Linked DNA regions of Homo sapiens. The protein of the gene in region 3 interacts with the protein of the main gene of each other region in a pairwise test. Each region holds a gene or a part of one and is shown on either strand. Other genes may lie near its edges.

The links.
Region 1: the proteins of SSX5 (region 3) and PCBD2 interact in a two-hybrid assay, tested with the Homo sapiens proteins (one large-scale study listed by BioGRID and IntAct).
Region 2: the proteins of SSX5 (region 3) and NFE2 interact in a two-hybrid assay, tested with the Homo sapiens proteins (one large-scale study listed by BioGRID and IntAct).

What each region holds. Positions count from the first base shown.
Region 1 is NC_000005.10:134,911,563-134,915,214, reverse strand, and holds part of PCBD2 (pterin-4-alpha-carbinolamine dehydratase 2), read right to left. Parts: intron 1-3,652.
Region 2 is NC_000012.12:54,294,684-54,298,037, forward strand, and holds part of NFE2 (transcription factor NF-E2 45 kDa subunit), read right to left. Parts: intron 3,266-3,354; exon of another isoform or gene 3,081-3,265; intron 1,076-3,080; exon of another isoform or gene 861-1,075; intron 622-860; 5' UTR 566-621; coding exon 452-565; intron 171-451; exon of another isoform or gene 67-170; intron 1-66. UniProt on the Homo sapiens protein: Component of the NF-E2 complex essential for regulating erythroid and megakaryocytic maturation and differentiation. Binds to the hypersensitive site 2 (HS2) of the beta-globin control region (LCR).
Region 3 is NC_000023.11:48,186,796-48,190,447, forward strand, and holds part of SSX5 (protein SSX5), read right to left. Parts: intron 3,474-3,652; coding exon 3,338-3,473; intron 937-3,337; coding exon 836-936; 3' UTR 832-835; intron 342-831; exon of another isoform or gene 285-341; intron 62-284; 3' UTR 1-61. UniProt on the Homo sapiens protein: Could act as a modulator of transcription.

The DNA.
Region 1 (3,652 bases), on a different chromosome or scaffold from region 3:
GCCTCCTGAGTAGCTGGGATTACAGGCGCACGCCACCACGCCTGGTTAATTTTTGTATTTTTGGTAGAGACAGGGTTTCACCAGGTTGGTCAGGCTGGTCTCGAACTCCTGACTTCGTGATCCACCTACCTCAGCTTCCCAAAGTGCTGGGATTACAGATGTGAGCCACCGCGCCCGGCTCTGGTATGTGAGTTTTAAAAGTTGATAGGCATTGCTCAATTTCCCTTCAAAAAGATGATGTCAACTGGGTGCAGTGGCTCATGCCTGTAATCCCAACACTTTGGTAGGCCGAGGCGGGCAGATCACCTGAGGTCAGGAATTCAAGACCAGCCTGGCCAACATGGCAAAACCCCATCTCTACTATAAATACAAAAAATTAGCTGGGCATGATGGCGGGCGCCTGTAATCCCAGCTACTCTGGAGGCTGAGGCAGAAGAATCACTTGAATCTGGGAGGTGGAGGTTGCAGTGAGCCAAGATCGCACCATTGTACTCCAGACTGGGTGACAAGAGTGAAACTCCATCTGAAAAAAAAAAAAATAGATGATGTCAAATGACACTCTCAGCTCATCACTATCACCTCCCCATCACAACTGTACTTCCCTACCCTGCCGAGACTCCAAGGGCCAGCGTTTCTGTCCCTCCCTTTTTTCCCTTGTCCCTCTGTTCCTCCATTGCATTCATTTAGCAAAAGTTCAGTCCTTGTTAAGCCCAACTCTGCATCTACTCCAGCTTGTGCACAGCAGCGGAACACAGCAGGAAAAAAAACATACAAAATGTTCACTTTAAATGTTTGACCCCAAATCTGTAGTGACACTGAGAACTGCTTAGCAACCAGCCACGTTTCTCAAGTTTTTTCACTATCTTAGTCTCCAAAATGACTATTCCACTCCTTCTCTTATCTCCCCAGGTCTCCAACACTCTTCCCTTCCACCCCTACTTGCTCTCAATTGATGATCTCACTAAAAAACAAAAGCAATCAGGAGAGAATGGCCCTCTTTTTCCCAGGATGAATGTAACGGCCTATTGGCATCTAAACCACAATGGACATATCATCGCTGTGCCTCCACTGCCCATCTGATCCTGTCCTCTCCTGCCTAACTGGACCATGCTCTCACAGTGATCCCCTCTGACAACTCACAAACTGCTGTCTCAGCCTGAACTCCAGCCTCTTACACCCACCTCCTAACCCAATAACTCCATTTGGATGACTAATAAGTACCTCAAACCTGACATGTGAAAACAGGATTCTCACCTCCATACCCCTGCCCCCCACCTTGCACCCCATCTTCCACAGCTCAGTAAATGGCTCCAGTGGCACTACCCTTTACACTATAGCTTGAACCAAAACCTTGGTGCCATCCTTGACCCTCCCCTATCACACATCCAATCATTCAGCAAGTCTTGATTATTCTACTTTCAAAATATGTGGAACCCTACATTTCTCTCCATCCCCACTGATACCTCCATAAGACCCCCATCATCCCCGGTCTAGACATCTGCAACAGTGTTCTACAGAGTCTGCCTGCTTCCACTCTGACCTTCCTACCGCCTATTCTGAGCAGAACAGCCAGGGTGATTTTTTAGAACACAGCCACAGGATGACACTTCTCTGCCTGAAATCCTCCATTAGCTTTCCTTCACAGAATAAAATCCAAACTCCTCACCACGCCAAGAAGGCCCCCATGCTCTGACCCTTCCCCTCGTCTCCTCGCCTGCTCCACTCCACACTGGCCTTCTGCTTCTGGCTCAATCATGCCAAGGTCATTCTGCTTTGGAAACTCTGTGCTTGCTGTTCTCCAGCTGGAAAGCTCTTCCCTTGGATCACCATGTGCTGAGCTCCTTCACATTATTCAGGCCTCAGAGATCCCCTCCCCAGAGAGGACTTTCCAGACCACTCTACCTCCAAGAGTGCCTCTGTCCCCCTCCACTCCAATTCCCTACTTTATTCTTCAGGGTACTCATCACTAGCTGAAATTATATTTCCTATTCATCTGTTTATTGTTTATTTTCCCACTGGGATGGGAGCTGTATGAGCTTAGAGTAGCACCTAGCACACAGAAAATGCTTAATAAATCTTTGTTGAATTAATAAATATTTCATGATAAAATTTAAAAAATTTTTTTAAATGTAACCACATGTATAACTGGCATGCTCTGGCATACTTGGCAAACAAACATACCCATGGAGAAAGACCAGAAGAGAACAGAGAAAAATAAAAGTAGTTGCGATTGGAAATTTTTTTTACTTACACCATCCTATTTTAATGTTATGCTGTTGTTACAATAAAAAACAATGGCTTTTCTGTCCTAAATGAAAGATGAATGAGGACCCATCAGCGCCAGAGGGTCACTACTCTACTCACGAGTTGTGAGCAAGAGAAAACCAACTCCTGACACCTGGGCGCTGGCCTGGTACTATCAACCAGTCCTTGGTGCTCTCCTTTCGAACATCAACATCAACACCAGACAAGGCCACTCTGTGACCATGATGGATGAAGACAAAAACAAGACCACTCTGCAATACCTGAACACAGACAAAACATGAACATTGTCCAAGCCACAAAATACCAAACATCCTCCTCTCCCAGCTAATGAGTGACTATTGCTTCTTCTTCAGTTTCAGCTTTGGCACTGCTTTAATCTACTCTCCCTATAGATACGATTTATTAAAATACCAAATGACAGAGTTGCCCATTTCCTGACAGCATCTAATCCAGAGTAAAGTCCCCAAATCACTACCACAGCCCAAATCCTATATGGGCTCACCCCACGGTGCCCTTTGGTGTGCACTCTCCCTCACAGCAATAAGCAATAAGCTCAACTTGTTCGACTGTAGGTGTGTTCCTAGTTGTGTTTCGCTGGAGGGCACTGACAACTGTCAGGACACCAGTTACCATTACAGGCCATGGTACACGCAGAAGTCATAGGAGCCTAGTGGGAAAACTGACCCCCGGATATAATCTCAGTGTTGGTTCTCTGAATACATTCCCTGACATCAGCTGATTTTCTTGTCATCTGCCTCTTTTTCCTAAAAGTTGGGTGAATGGGAAAAAAAAAGTCTACTTAATTAAATGCCCCAGTGAATAATGTTACAATCAATCCAGTATGCTTCCCTACCATTGCTGAAAGTCACCCTGAGCGCAAGGTCAGAATGGTGCTGGAGGACTGAATCATAGGCAGGGCCTGAGGCAACACCATTCGAGTACTTTAAGCCACATGTTCAAGCCCAATAAATTAGGCCAGGTTTAAAGAAGTCAAGCTGTACATATGTAAGAATTTTAATAAGCTTGGAAAATGCTACCTAGAGCTTATGCACAGGCTTACTGTACCAATGGGATTCCCTGCCACCAGCCACAGCGTGCTAAGCCCCTAACAAGAGCTGTTGAGCACGTGGGGCAGCGGGGACAGGGAGTCTGCTTGGTCCAGGTTTCCTTAGGAGTTGGAGACTCACAGCAGAGGCTGGCAGCCAGATGGATAGAGAACAGAATCGGGCATGCAGCTCAGTGGAGCCAATGACATTTACTAGGAAAACATGCCGAAGGTTTCTTTGGTGCAAATCTGGTCCTCACACACCCTTCTAGAAACTAGCAAACACTGTAATCAATGTCTGCATTTATCAAATGCCTGTTTGTACCCAGAACTGTGTTGGGT
Region 2 (3,354 bases), on a different chromosome or scaffold from region 3:
AGGAGGAGAGGACCCTGGCATAGTCCGACTCCCCTTCCTGAGGCCCCTGAACTACTGCTCTGTTACCTGGGGTAAACGGGCCCAGTTGCCAAGGGCAGGCGGAGGTAATGAGGGAAGAAGATGGCAGGATCAGAGAGGCAGGTCAGAAGAGAAGAAGGTGAGCACGGGAGGGAGAGCAGGAGGTGGGGTAGAGAGAGATGTGAGTCAAGTGGCTGCTGAGAGAGCCTACACTCCCAATCAGATCATTCCCTCCCCACCACTGCTCCTCCACTCCTCCTCCTCAACGTTCCTCAGTGTCTTCCATCCGGATCTTTCCCTTCCTTTCCCAGTGCCTGGAGCATTACCAGCCCTGAGCCCTGCTTGCTCCTGCCCTCTGCCTCAGTCCTGGCCAACTCCCTGCTTCTCTCTTCTCCGACACACGGCCTCCCCTGCCCTATCCCCCCTTACTCACCTGCAGCTCGGTGATGGACATGATCTCCTGCCAAGTCAGTTCCATCTCTCCTAGCTCTGAAGTGGACAGCTGTATCACCCTGTTCCTGCTCTGCTGGGGAGGACACGGGGACATCCTACTGGGCCAGAGTCTGGTCCAGGTTCCCGGAAAGCCCAGATGGCTCTAGAAACCTGTGTCAAAGGAAAAGAGGTGTTAGAGCTACACCTGCTAGGGTCAGCAAGTTTGCACTACCTCCTTGGAGGGGCTCCCTCCAGCTTCCCCTGAGGGAAGGAGAGACCGCCTCCTCCCCATCCTCACTCATGCTGGATTCATCAATCCCTTAAGATGGAAAGTCTTTTCCTGTGTTGTGATCTCCACCTCGCCAACTATGGCCACAGTCAGTTCCTTTGGTAGCACAGGAGGTCTTTACCTTTTTTCCAGGCAAAATGCCCACTCTTTTCCCTAATACTTTTTACTCCCCCAAACTGTTTTCCTGGCTAAAGGCAGAGTCAGATCTTCTGTTTTTCTGTTTTGCTGTGTTTTGTTTTCCATTTTCTAGGGCAACATCAGGGGTCACCCTGCTTTCCTCCTCTGTCCTCAGTTTTACGTTCTCAGCCTTTTCTTTCCAAGATGATGACAGTATATGCTTGAGGATCCCCAAGAACAAGTTGTGGAAAGAGGCAAGCAGACAGCCCCTCCTCCTCTCCAAGATATGGCCCAGGCCTGGTGGTTGATAGCAGCTCTGCCCTCTCCTCCTATCCTGGCCCTGGGCTCCCCTGCCTGGGCCAGATAAGAGGTTTATCAGTTGCAGGCAGCAGAGGCACAGAAGGAATGGGCTCTGGAGACACTGGACCTCTGTCCTGTGTCCTCACAGGGTCATTTGGGCCATACCTTAACCCATACAATCAGAAGTCTTTCCTCTTCTGAGGTAATATAACCTTAGTAAAGACTTAGTAAGCACTTGTTAAGAACTGTGCTGGTATTGCAAGCTTAGTTTATAAGATTGGTTTTCATCGGGCGCGGTGGCTCAGGCCTGTAATCCCAGCACTTTGGGAGGCCAAGGCAGGTGGATCACCTGAGGTCAGGAGTTCGAGACCAGCCTGGCCAACATGGAAACCCCGTCTCTACTAAAAATACAAAAATTAGCTGGGCGTGGTGGGGTGGCACATGTCTGTAGTCCCAGCTACTCGGGAAGCTGAGGCAGGAGAATCACTTGAACCCAGGAGGTGGAGGCTGCAGAGAGCCGAGATCGCGCCACTGCACTCCAGCCTGGCTGACAGAGTTAGACTATGTCTCAAAAAAAAAAAAAAAAAAAAGACTGGTTTTCACAAAGATTCTAAAGGTACATCAGAAACTGAGACTGAAGCTGATAAATAATAGCAGGATGAGGTCCAGAACCTGACTCTACCTGACTATAATGTCTTCTAGGCACCTTCCCCTCCTGCCCCTGTATCTTCATACTCCAAACCTCTACTGGAAGTCTACATTCATCAGTTCTTTCTGTGGAGTGTCAGTCTCTCTTTCTCCTTCTGGGCAATGTCTCTTTAGAGCCTTGAATATACACTGCCCTCCAGTCCCTTTTCTTTTGACCTGGGTTCTAGTTGCAGCTCTGCCACAAAGCAGCAGTGTGATGTTGGGCAAGCCATCTCACTTCTCTGGGCCTCTGTTTCCTCATTTGTAAAACCAGGGAGTTGGACAAATTGACCTTGGAGGTCCCTTTCTGCTTGGATAGCTTAGAATTCTCAGCAAACCCTCACCCGTGTCTTTATCTTCTTCTGTCAGTCCCTCTCCTCATGCTACCTCCCTATTCCCTGACACCCACCTTCCTTGCATCTGTTTTCCCTGCCGTCAGCAAGAGATTCCAAGTAGATTTGGCAAGGTCTTCCTGATCTCTACGGTCAGACATTGTGTCTATGTGCACGCACACAGACATACCGTGCCATATCAGTATAGGGAAGCAGGCTAGGATGAAGGAAACATGGGAGAGGGGAAGCACTTTGGGAGGCCAAGGTGGAAGGATTGCTTGAGCCCAGGAGTTTGAGATCAGCCTGAGAAACACGGTGAAAACCCATCTCCACTAAAAATGCAGAAATTAGCTAGGCATAATGGCACACATCTGTGGTCCCAGCTACTCAGGAGGCTGAGGTGGGAGGATCACTTGAACCTGAAAGGTCACGGCTGCAGTGAGCCATGATTGTGCCACCGCACTCGAGAGCCTGGGTGACAGAGCAAGACCCTGTCTCAAAAAAAAAAAAAAAAAAAAAAAACGGCCAGGTGCAGTGGCTCACACCTGTAATCCTAGGACTTTGGGAGGCTGAGGCAGGTGGATCACCTGAGGTCAGGAGTTCGAAACCAGCCTGGCCAACATGGTGAAACCCCCATCTCTACTAAAAATACAAGTAATAGCCAGGCTTGGTGGTGGGCGCCTGTAATCCCAGCTACTCAGGAGGCTGAGGCAGGGAGAATTGCTTGAACCCGGGAGGCGGAGGTTGCAGTGAGCTAAGATCGCACCACTGCACTCCAGCCTGGGCGACAGAGTGAGACTCTGTTTCGGAAAAAAAAAAAAAAAAAAAAAAAAAGAAAAGAAAGAAAAAGAAGGACAGAGGATAGGATTGTATGACCTCAAATTGCATGACCTTAGACCACTCACCACAAGGATGGCCCATCACAGCAATTTAATATGGAATCTTCTCTTCGACTTACCACAAAATTAGTAGGAACTACAAATGATCCTTTTGAAAGAGTATCTCCCCTAGCCCTTGCCTCCATCCCCTTGTTTTACTGCCATCCCCAGAGATGGGAGTTGGTGTAGGCAACTCTGCCAGTGGGCAGAGTGGGTGGGGTGTTTATGTCTGTCCAGGATGCCATTTCAACACCGGAACCCCACCCTCCTCCACCCAGGTTCTGGCGGAAATTGCCCAAAG
Region 3 (3,652 bases):
ATGTTCGTGAAAGGTCACCACGTTCTGCTTCTCATCATGGGCATGTGTCATATCCCCGAGGCTGAGGCAAGAAGCGAGAAGGAAAGTAAGTGGCAGTGAGTTCCCACCACATGACAACTCAATCTCAACTCCTCCTGACCTGCAGACCCTGCCCACTCCGATTCTGCCCTACCTCAGGACCTGTACACGCCTTCCATGGTTCCTTGAAGTGAACCATCTGCTCATACCACAGTGACTTCCTCGCCTGGGTTATCAATTCCTAGGCTAGAGGAAGGTGTGGCCCGCATATCAGTGCTGACCTGGGGTTTGGGAACCCACAGCATCCTGGGTAGGGAGGATCCCTGGATATAGAGGGCAGGGAGTAGAAAGAGCATGGTTAGGCAGGCGCAGAGGCTCACGCCTGTAGTCACAACACTTTGGGAGGCGGAGGCAGATGGATCACGAGGTCAGGAGATTGAGACCATTCTGGCTGACATGGCGAAACCCTGTCTCTACTAAAAATACAAGAAAAAAAATTACCCGGTCGTGGTGGCGGGTGCTTGTAGCCCCAGCTACTGGGGAGGCTGAGGCAGGAGAATGGCGTGAACACGGGAGGCGGAGCTTGCAGTGAGCCGAGATCATGCCACTGCACTCCAGCCTGGGGGAACAAAAGGAGACTCCCCCACCCACAAAAAAAAACATGGGAAATTTCATCATTCAGCCTCAATGCTGTACCCTAGAAAATTATGAGAAGGGAATGATTTGGGGAACAACTGATAAGATGGGATACCAGTACCATAACAGAATAGCACATCTGCAAGGATGTGGGAGATGAGCCAAAGGTTCACTTACGGAGTTACTCGTCATCTTCCTGAGGGTCGCTGATCTCTTCATAAATCACCAGTTGCTTTCTCTCACGCACTCTGTGGGTCCAGGCATGTTTCCCCCTTTTGGGTCCTATGATGGAGAAGAGTTGGAAGATGAGGGTTGGGTAGATTGGAGAGGGTTGGGTTGATTGGAGAGTGTTAGGCTCTGTTTTCTCCAAAAAAGGAGATGCCTCCCCACCACCAAGTGCCCATGGGTCTTCTTTATCCAGTTTTTCACATTCTCTGGCTTAGAGAGGCTGAGACCTTAGACCCACACCAATACAGGCCAAATGCAAATTAAAGTTTTAGCTTCTGGCTCCTTCCGTTGTCAGGTTTAGATTCCCAACCTCTTCACTTACGGGAACATTCACCCTTACCTCCTTTCATTCAGCACGTATTTATTAAGGCCACACAGGCGTACCTTGTTTTATTGCACCTCATTTTCATACTGCTTCACAGATGTTGCAATTTTTTTTTTGGAAATTCTCACCAATTTTACACTTTTCCATTATTATTATATCTGTTATGGTGATTTGTGATCAGTGAGCTTTGATATTATTACTGCAATTGTTTTTATTGTTTTTTAGTCTTTTAAAATAATTTCTGTTTTTTATTTTTGTGGGTACACAGTAGGTGTATATACTTATGGGATACATGAGACGTTTTGATACAGGCATGCAAATGCGTAAAAATCACATCATGGAAAATAAGGGATCTATCCCCTCAAACATTTATCCTTGGTTACAATCAATCCATTTACACTCTTTTAGTTTTCATACTGCACAATTAAGTTATTATTGACTATAATCACCCTGTTGTATGTAATTATTCTGGGGGTAACAGGAACTGCACTCATAGAAGTTGACAAACTTAATCGACAAATATTGTGTGTGTTCTGACTGCTCCACCGATGAGCTCTTCCCTGCCTCTCTTCCTTTTCTTGGGCATCTGTATTTCCTGAGACATATCAACACCGAAATTAGGAAGATTAACAACCCTACAATGGCCGCTAAGTGTTGAAATGAAAGGAAGAGTCGCATGTCTCTCACTTTAAATCAGAAGCTAGAAATGGCTAAGCTTAGTGAGGAAGCATGCTGAAAGCCAAGACAGGCTGAAAGCTAAGCCTCTTGCACCAAACAGCCAAGCTGTGAATGCAAAGGAAAAGTTCTTGAAGGAAGTAATAGTATATAATGCAAAGGAAAAGTTCTTGAAGAAAATAATAATACTAATACTCCAGTGAACACAAGAATAAGAAAGCAAAACTGCCTTACTGCTTAAATGAGAAAGTGGTCAGGATAGAAGACGAAACCAGCCACAACATTCCCTTAAGCCAAAGTCTAATTCAGGGCAAGACCCAAACTCTCTTCAAGTCCATGAATTCTGAGAGAGGTGAAGAAGCTGCAGGAGAAACGTGTGAAGCTAGCAGAGGTTGGTTCATGAGGTTTAAGGAAAGAAGCCGTCTCCATAACATAAAAGTGCAAGGTGAAGCAGCAAACCCTGATGGAGAAGCTGCAGCAAGTTATCCGGAAGATCTAGCTAAGATCACTGATGAAGGTGGCTACACTAAACAACAGATTTTCAATGTAGATAAAATAGCCTTCTATTGGAAGGAGATGCCATCTAGGACTTTCATAGCTAGAGAGCATTGACTTCAACTTTGAAAGAAGTTCTACTGTGGGTAAAATGCTATCCAAAAGCATCACATACTACAGAGAAAGCATTCATGAACGGAAGAGCTAATCGATGTGGCAAATTTCATTGTTGTCTTCTTTTATGAAACTGCCACAGCCACTCCACCCTTCAGCAACCACCACCTTGATCAGCCAGCAGCCATCAACACCCAGGCAGGATCCTCCACCAGCAAAAAGAGTGTGACTCACTGAAGTCGCAGAAGATTATTAGCATTTTATACAATGAATTATTTTAAAATTAAGATATATACATTTTGAGACACAATGCTAGTGCAAACTTAGTAGACTTCAGTATATTGTAAACATAATGTTTTTATGCACTGCCAAACCAAGAAAAAAATGTGTGTGACTCACTTTATCGCAGTGGTCTGGAACTGAACATGCAATATCTCTGAAGTACACCTATATCGGGTAACAGGCATTGAGCTGAGTAAGATATGATCCCAGGTAATCACAGATGGAATTGCTTCAGCACCTTTCATGTCATCAGGCCTTCTAGACTTAATTTAATGCCTCCAAACAATTTATGAACTGAGATTCTTTATTTCCAACTTATAAACTAGGAAACTGGAGCTAAGAAAATTTGGAAGACTTGCCCCAAGTCACGTGGTTTTTTTATATGAATGACAACTCCAGTCTGTGTCTCTGGAAGTCATGTGTAACATCTCATCTGGAGCTGGGCGAGCTCCTCAGCCCAGCCTGGACCCAGGCTTGTCTGGGGTCCATGCCACACACCCAGTCCACACACCTGAACTTAGCGAGAAAAGCCAGAGTGGTTGTTCCCAAATTCTTTTCTCTTACCAGATGTCTTGTTAACCTTCTCAGAGGTATTTAGTTTTCCTGAGGGGCGCAGCTGTTTCCCATTGTTCTGTGGGCCAGATGCTTCTGGCACTCCCTTCGAATCATTTCCTTCCTCTGCTGGCTTCTCGGGCGTGATCTTTATAATGTGAAGGTCACAGATAAACAGTATCAGTGACATTTCTTTAGTGCTTTAGAGCTTACAAAGAATCTTCACATGCATTACCTTAATCAATGTTCTCAACAATGCTAGGAGAGTTACACTTGCCTAAATTAGGAGAAACCTGGGAGGGGAGGTTAGATGGGAAAGGAATGGCC